Regions from separate parts of the Homo sapiens genome. Here region 1 is linked to region 2. The links come from fine-mapping of genetic effects on gene expression. A gene starts in region 2. The other region holds a variant in brackets. All regions are shown on one strand. Distances are from middle to middle.

Region 1 (4,385 bases), 23 kb before region 2:
TAAATCAGGTGACAAGAAAGAAGAGAGTCTTTCTTGTTGGTTGGAGGACTCTTCAGATTAGAAGCTCAGGAAAAGTCTCTCTCAGGAAGGGTGATGTTTGAGCCAAGGCTCGACAACCTTGAAATGCCACGGAGTCTGCAAAGCAATGATCTGTGGGAAGAGGAGCCAGCATTGTGGGGGCTCAGAGATATATTGTTTAGACTTTGTAGGCTTCAAAATAAGGGGCTGGGCTGGGCACAATGGCTCATGCCTGTAATCTCAGTACTTTGGGAGGCTGAGGCTACAGGAGTGCTCGAGCCCAGGAGTTCAAGACCAGCCTGGGCAACATAGCAAGACCTTGTCTCTATGAAAAGAATTTTTTTTAAATTTAAAATAAAAAATAAAAAACAAAAACAAAATAAGGGGCTGTATCTTATTCTATTTGCTATGCAAAGTCGTTAGAGGGATTTAAACAAGAGAGTGGTTTGACCTCATTTATATTTTTTTTCTTTTTTAAGAGACAGTGTGTTGCTCTGCCTACTCAGCCTGAAATGCACTGGCACAATCATGGTTCACTGCAGCCTCCATCTCTCTGGCTCAAGCAATCCTCCTGTCTCAGCCTCCTGAGTGGCTGGGACTACAGATAGGCACCACTACACCCTGTTGCCCAGGCTGGTCTTGAACCCCTGGCTTCAAGCAGTCTCCCTCTTTGGCCTTCCAAAGTGCTGGGATTACAGGTGTGAGCCACCACACCCAGACTACATTTTAAATAGTGCTCAGTGGAGCATCAGCTCTAAGGAGGCAAGAATGGAAGCAGAGAAACCGATTAGGGAACAGTTGCAATAGTTTTAATGAAAGATGATGGTGGCATGGACTCGAGAAGTAGCAGAAAGATGGTGAGAAGTGGAAGGAAGATAAGAGCTACATTTTTCTCTTGAACAACTGCCTGGATGGTGGCGCTGTTCAATTAAATGAGGAAGACTGTAGAACCAGGCTGGTGGTGTCGATGGGGGAAACAAGAGTTCTATTTTTGGGCTGGGCCTAGTGCGTCATGCCTGTAATTCCAGCACTTTGGGAGGCCAAGGAGGGAGGATCGCTTGAGGCCAAGAGTTCAATACCAGCCTGGGCAACATAGCAAAATCCTGTCTCTTAAAAAAAAAAGAAGTTCTATATTTGTTGTCGTGTTTTTTTGTTGTTGTCTTTTGTGTGTGTGTGTGTGTGTCTTTTTTCTGGAGACAGAGTCTCACTCTGTCACCCTGGCTTGAGTGCAGTGGTGGGATTAGGGTTGACTGCAGCCTCGACCTCCCGGGTTCAAGCAATCCTCCCACCTCAGCCTCCCAAGTAACTGTGACTATAGGCGCATGCCAACATGCCTGCTGATTTTGTTGGTTTTAGTAGAGACGGTGTTTCACAATGTTGCCAGGGCTGGTCTCGAACTCCTGGGCTCAAGCAATCCATTTGCCTCAGCCTCCCAACTTGCTAGGATTATAGCACTTTGCCAGAAGCCACCATACCTGGCCAAGGGTTCTATTTTGAACTTGATGAATTTGAAATGCTGAGTAGATATCCAAGGGAGATGTCAAGCAGGCAGCTCCGGAAGAGGTAGAACTGTAAATGCTGTTAGCATATGGATAGTATTTAAAGCCAGCTACCTAAACAGGAGCACCTAGGAACAGAGTACAGACAAAGCAGAAGAGAGCCCAGCCAGGGCTCCAGGATCCAGGACCCTGAAGAGTGAGGCAGGGGAGGTGGGGCCAGTAAAGGAGCTGAGAAAAAAGAATTTGAGAGATAGGAGAGTCTAACATTTCAGAAATAAGGGTTGA[G/A]GGTATTTCAGGTCAAGAGGTTATGGTCAACAAAGTCAAATGCTGCTGCGCTGTTAAGAGGAGAGAGAGAAGTGATCATGACGTTGACAAGGGTGGTTCCAGGGGAGGAAGGAAGTTGAAAACCCAGTGGAACTAGGTTTTGATAGAAAGGAAAACTTCCATAAGGACAGATTTTACAGGAAAGAGAAATACCCAGATATGTCAGGAAAAGTCCATGAGAGGGCACTGAAGAAAAATCTCAAATAGAAGTTTCCAACCTGGCCGACATCAGAATGACCCAATGAACTTTAAAAAACAAAAACAAAAAACAGTTTCCTGGTCCTATGCCAAATCTATTAAATTAGTACGAGAGGAAATTGGAATCTATATTGGAATTCTCAGATAATTCTGGTTTACCTGAATTCGAGTAGAAGATGAACCCATGAGGCAGAGGTTGCAGTGAGCCGAGATCATGCCACTGCATTCCAGCCTGGGCAATAGAGTGAGACTCAGTCTCAGAAGAAAAAAAGATGAACTGGGCAGAAACATTCCCACCAGTACCTTCTCCTTGTTTGAGAAAAGAAAAAAGGTTAATAAGTAGAATTTTCTGATTTTAAGTTTATCTCCCCTAAATTTTTTCTTCAATCTTTAGAAGTTATCACTTGTCTTCTAGTGAGCTCTAGTAGGACGTAAAATGAATATTTACAGAAAAACTCAAAAAGAGATAACCACACTTAGACATCCTGCTCTTTTTCACGGATATGTGTGTTTGTGAATGTGATTTTAGGCTGCGCACACAGAATTAGAGGGATTTTTTTTTCTGCCTTATAAATTGGTTTTGTATGTAATAATGGAGTTGTTTTGATCAATTTGGATGCTGTTGTGCAAATCGCACAGAGTATCCTGCAATCAGAATGGGTTTGAGAATAATTGAAAAGAGCCCTGAAAGCTTCATGCTTTCTCTCTCTCTCTCTCTCTGCGGCAAGTAAGCAGTTTCCTCAAGGGAGGCCTGAAAGTCAAATCCCTATTCCCCTTCGGTTTAGCTGGCTGGAAGAAAATCCCAAAATGGGAATAATTTGATATGTCTGGAAGAAGCAGGGAAAACAAAATTTAAAACAGGAGCTTCCTTTATGGGAGGACCCATAATAAGGCCATTATCATAACATTCTACATGTGTTGTGCACAGTTCACAACGCATCATTATGCTTATCATCTCATTTGATCTTTATATCAATCCTGGGGAAAACTATACTATTGTCAATTTCCCATCATTAAAACAACAACAACAGCCAGGTGCAATGGCTCATGCCTGTAATCCCAGCACTTTGGGAGGCTGAGGCAGGTGGATCACTTGAGGTCAAGAGTTCCAGATCAGCCTGGCCAACATGGTAGAATTCTGTCTCTATTAAAAATACAAAAATTAGCCGGGCACAGTGGCTCACGCCTGTAATCCCAGCACTTTGGGAGGCTGAGGCGGGCAGATCACCTGAGGTTGGGAGTTCGAGACCACCCTGACTGACCAACATGGAGAAACCCCGTCTCTACTAAAAATACAAAATTAGCCGGTTGTGGTGGCACGCACCTGTAATCCTAGCTGCTTGGGAAGCTGAGGCAGGAGAATCGCTTGAACCCAGGAGGCAGAGGTTGCAGTGAGCGGGAGATTGCGCCATTGCACTCCAGTCTGGGCAACAAGAGCAAATCTCCGTCTCAAAAATAATGATAATAATACAAAAATTAGCCAGGCATGGTGGTGCATGCCTGTAGTCTCAGCTACTCCGGAGGCTGAGGCAGGAAAATCACTTAAACTCAGGAGGTGGAGGTTTCAGTGAGCCAAGATTGCACCACTGCACTCCAGCCTGGGATACAGCCTCCGTCTCAAAACAAAACAAAACAAAAAAACAACAAACAGATGAATAAATGGAGGCTTAGGTGGGTTAAGGTAATTTCAAAGGCCCTACAAGTAGAAAAGCACAAACTCCAAAGGTAGTTGTTTACAATCACAGAATAAAAAAGTGAATGAGGGCCAGGCACCATGGCTCACGCCTGCAATCCCTACACTTTGGGAGGCTGAGGTGGGAAGATCACTTGAGCTCAGGAGCCCAGAGACCAGCCTGGGCAACATGGCAAAAACCCATCTCTACTAAAAATACAAAAATTAGCAGGGTATGGTGACACACACCCATAGTCCCAGCTACTCATGGGGGGCTGAGGTGGGAGAATTGCTCTGGCCCAGGAGGTTGTGGCTACAGTGATCTGTGATCACACCACTGCACTCCAGCCTGGTCAACAGAGCTAGACCCTGTCTCAAAAAAAAAGCAAATGAACTCAGCAATGAAATGGAACAAGCTATCCATACATGCAGCAATTGGGATGACTCTCCAGGAAATTATGCTGAGTAGAAAAAGCCAATGCCAAAAGGTTCCATACGCTATGATTATTATATGTATATACAATTTTTGAAGTGACAAAATTTTAGAATTTGAACGTGGTTGCCAGGTGTTAGGTATGGCGGGAGGAAGTGGGGCAGGAGGGAGATTCATATGGTTATAATAGGGCAGCATAAATAATCTTTATAGTGATGTAACTGTTCGGTATCTGGACTTG
Region 2 (4,385 bases):
ACAGATCTTTTTATTTTTTTATTTTTTACTTTTTCTGGTTCAGGATCATGTCTCTTAAAGTCCTTTAATCTGCAAAAGTTCTTCTTCAGTCTTTGTCTTTGATGGCTTTCATGTATGTAAGAGTACAGGCCAGTTATTTTATAGGCTGTTCCTCAACTTGGGTCTCTGGCGCTTAAAAACAAAACAACAGAATCTCAACGTTTTGAGAATTTTAGGTGTGGTCCTGAGCCAATACTTAAATAAGCCTCTCTCCTCAAGGTTCTTTCCAGCCACCTTACACAGATTATCCTTAGTGAATTAGATTTATAGATGGTGGTGATAGACAGTAAAACATTTTTGTATTCAGAACTGTCTTGAATTACATATATTCCAACCCCTCCACCACATTTTACCATTTTAATTTAACAAAAGTAAGTTTGTTGAAGAATGAGCACATACTCTTTAAACATTTAAGTCTTAAATTACCTGTAGACTCCCATTTTGACAATCTCACCCCTGCAGTGATGACCTATGCCCTAGGCTCAGAAGACAAAGATCTGCAAAAATGGGTGTTACTCATTACAATCATTCAACAAATATTTGTTGAGTGCCTAGTATATGTCAGGCTCTGTTCCAAGCCCTGGGAATACATTTGAGAACAACAACAACAACAACAACAAAATCCTCATCCTTGAAAATCTAGTTGGAAAGATTAACCTTTTTTTTTGAGATGGAGTCTCACTCTGTTGCCCACGCTGGAGTGCAATGGCCAGATCTCGGCTCACTGCAACCCCCCGCCTCCCAGGTTCAAGCGATTCTCCTGCCTCAGCCTCCCGAGCAGCTGGGATTACAGGTGCGCGCCACCCCGCCCGGCTAATTTTTGTGTTTTTAGTAGAGACGGGGTTTCACCATGTTGGTCAGGCTGGTCTCGAACTCCTGACCTCGTGATCCGCCTCGGCCTCCCAAAGTGCTGGGATTACAGGCGTGAGCCACCGCGCCCGGCCCAGAAAGATTAACTTTTAAATTAAAAAAAAAAAAAAAATCAGAAACCGGGATTAGACTTCCCTTAAGTCATTCATGCCGGAGGTTGCAAATTCTTTTTGTGAAAAATCACACCTTAGCGATGACCTTGAGCAGTAGGATGTAAACAACTCCCACAAGCTTAGCGTTCCAATAACGGAACACAAGGCATAAACTAAACAGGAAGAAGGCAAGTCTGTGTGAATATGTTCAACTCCAAGACTCAAGATTCTAATGTGGATACTACTGCGGAATTCCTGTTAAACGCGCTGATTTAATAAAGTCTTCGGTTTATCCAAACGGGCTACACAAATGATTAATCCAAACTCCAAAGACCTAGAAAGAACAGGCGGGGCCGGGTTTCCTCAAGTGTTCCAACCACTTTTTCAGCAAGAGTCACCTGCTTGGCGACGAGCCTCCGGACCGCCCCGCGCTATCTGTTCCACCCGGCGGGGGCCACGCACGGGGTTCCGCGTCCCTGTGAGGCGGCACCTCCTGGGCCCAGCAGAGCTGAGCACCTGGGAACCGCGCACCGAGAGCCCCACGGGGAGGTGGTTAGGGGGAACCGGCTCCTCCAGGCGGCCTCGCCCACTGCAATGCAATCTGGGTGGTTTTTCCAGGTCCCTCCCTGCCTCGTTCCGCGCCCAGTCCCTGCCCCCGCGACGCCCGAGGGCCTGGACGGGTAGCTCGGAGTTACCGGGGCTGGGGAGGAGCGAGGCTACTGCAGTAAGCCAGCCGGAACCCATTTATGACTCCGCACTCTGAAGTTCAGGACAGGGAAGCACCCACCTCTGGAACTCAAGCAGTGGACGAGGGAGGTCCCGAGCGCCGTCGCAGCGCTGCGAGTGTGGGACCCTGGCCTTCGCCCGCTCTCAGGGGACGAGAGCTGCCACCTGTATCACGGGAGGCCCCGCCTCCGCCTGCACCTTCTCCTACCAGGAAACGAGACGGCGCGGGCCTCGGGCTCCTCTCCCCCCTCCCGGGAGCTGAACCCCCACTGGGAAAGCCAGGTCTCCAGCTTCCCTTGACACGCGTCTTGAAAGGTTACCGGATTTGTACCCGGAGTGGGTTCTGCAGGGATAGGTGCATGGTTGCCCGTTTCACATCATGAATATGAACGGGGCTGGACACCTAGAGCCGAATTATTAATACTTCAGACAGAATTCTGTTCCCAAGAACAAATCGCTTTGAGATATAAAACCCGAGAAAACTTCACCTCTGGCGCTTTTCTCTCTAAAATGTCAACAAGACCCAACAACATACTGCCACCGATCTGGTGGCTGGGGGGTGATGGTTGGGGTACGAGCCTCTGGGCAGACCAAGCTGAGGTGGAGCAGGGAGGTTGTTTGGGAGCTTGGTCAAGTCAACACACTCCAATACAATGCCAAAAGCATGAGCAGAGGGAATGGGGTCAGGGCGCAGAACCTGGGAAAAAGCCTGCGTGGCCCGATTTAAGAAAATTTTTATTAGGCATGCGGATAGATGCTTTTCATTTGGGGCCCAAGGCAAATAAAAGGAAATGGGCCCCAGCTCTGGAGGATGTTCCAGCTTCGAACTAGCAGCCAGGACCAAACCAGACATAGCATTCAGAGTTGACAGAAAAAGAAGCGGGCTCCATTGTGCCTGAGTTTCCTTGCGGGGTCCCCCAGCTGCTTTGCGCGCGATAACTGCGTCCTGGGGAGTGACTAGGTGGTTGGGCGTCCAGCCCCTGGCGTCCGGCTCTGCCGCGCGCGGGGTTCCTCTCCGGAAGGTGGGCAGCGCGGCGGGTTTGGGACGAGCGTGCACCCGGGCTCCGGCCCGGAGAAGGGGGGGCTCGCAGGATTTCTCCTGCTGTTTGCACTGAAAGTTGTGTTGGCTCAGGAGCTGCTTTTCCGGGGATCTGCAGTTGCCCCCGCCACCTCCTGGCTGCGGTTGGCAGGTCCCTCCCTCAGCAGTTCGTCCTCCGCCTGCGCCGCGCCCTGGGCAGCTCCGCGCCCCGGGCCTCACCTCTGGCCTCCTTTCGCCTCCCTGCACCTGGCCTTTTCGCTTGACCGTTCAGAACCTTCGGCTTCGTTCCCTGCAGCCGGTATTCTCCGAGCCCCCCTGCACCTCTCAGTTACCTCCAGTGGGAACCCCTCCCCCCAGCGACTCCGAGCCCTTTACCTCTCTGAGCCCTTTCCCCGTCTGGCCTCGTCTACCCTCTGGGTGTCAACCGCCTCTTCCCTGCCCCTCACGTCTCCCCCTCCTCCTCCCCTGCCCTCGCCTCTCCATTCATCCAGCCATTGTCTCCCGCCCCTTCCTCCCCCTCCCGAAGCGGCCTCCTCCCCCACCGCTGCCACGTCGTGGTTTGAAGGAGCCAATGGGCCGGCGCCGCCAGGTGTCTCTTACCTGCACCACGTGGGGGAGGGGGAAGGGGCGGGCAGGTAAAGCCACATCCCAAAACAGAAAAGCTTTCAGCCATTGCGTGCCTCCCGGGGGGGGCAGCCTTGCTCCAGGCTTTTTGCATAGACGCCCGGGCAACTGAATACAAAAAGGGCAGGCCTCCTGCGCCCTCCTTCCCACCCCCCTTCCTGCCCTGGGCGTGGAGCACCGACCAGGTGTGGGCTTGGGTGGTTGGTTACCGCCTTTTGCACTAGCAGTAGCAAGGAAGGGGGGTGGGCGCTCTTTCTTTTTCTCTTAGAAGAGGGTTTAGCACAGGTTTTTTCGTTCTCACTTCCACACCACCTTACCGCCTCCCGACCCCCCCTCTCCCCCTCCCCACCTATCGTCATGACGGCCTCTCCGGATTACTTGGTGGTGCTTTTTGGGATCACTGCTGGGGCCACCGGGGCCAAGCTAGGCTCGGATGAGAAGGAGTTGATCCTGCTGTTCTGGAAAGTCGTGGATCTGGCCAACAAGAAGGTATTTCTCCACATTTTCGTCTAAATGCAAGGAATGGGGCAAGAAGTTTGTGGTAGAGGTTTGGGCGGGGAGGGGGGTGGAGGTAAGTAAATAAGTGCTCTTGTTTGCCCACTTGTGAGTCTGGACCCGAGGCCTAGGGAAGCTAGAGTAAAACCAAACTTATTGGCCAACTGCCTTGGAGCCATTTCAGTCCTCCGCAACTTAGCTCAGGTGGAGAGGCCGGCGCTACCGAGCCGGGTTCTTTGCCCGTCGGGGGACGCTCCGCCGAGACGAGGTGGGGTCTCGGAGGCCCCGGGGTCCACTTCCAGGGCTTTTCCGACCTATCGGGTGGGGGGTGGGGCGGGGGGCAGGAACGCACCGGAACCGATGGCGAGTCGAGAGCTTTGATTCTGCGTCCGGACCCCAAGAGAGGCGCGGGCCGCCCCAGCAGGGGAGCGAGGGAGGAGGGTGCAGAAAGAGGCTCCGAAATTGGGGGAAACTGACCCGTGCTTCTCTACCTTCGGAGG

Evidence for each region. PIP is the estimated chance that this variant, and not a neighbour inherited with it, causes the effect. A credible set is the group of variants that fine-mapping cannot tell apart.
Region 1: its variant is the best candidate, but not a certain one, in a credible set for the expression of LINC02894 in lung (TOPMed, PIP 0.59).

The regions. Positions count from the first base shown.
Region 1 is chr8:94,614,453-94,618,837 of GRCh38, forward strand. No RefSeq gene overlaps it. Among named protein-coding and RNA genes, the nearest start is that of LINC02894, 23 kb to the right of the region's middle. The variant G/A (reference allele first, on the strand shown) is at 1,803.
Region 2 is chr8:94,637,572-94,641,956 of GRCh38, forward strand. LINC02894 (long intergenic non-protein coding RNA 2894) reads right to left here and starts at 1,896. Exons shown (of 1, transcript NR_034034.1): 1 at 1-1,896. It overlaps ESRP1 (epithelial splicing regulatory protein 1), which reads left to right and starts at 3,603. Exons shown (of 16, transcript NM_017697.4): 1 at 3,603-3,879; 2 at 4,385. The coding sequence starts at 3,748.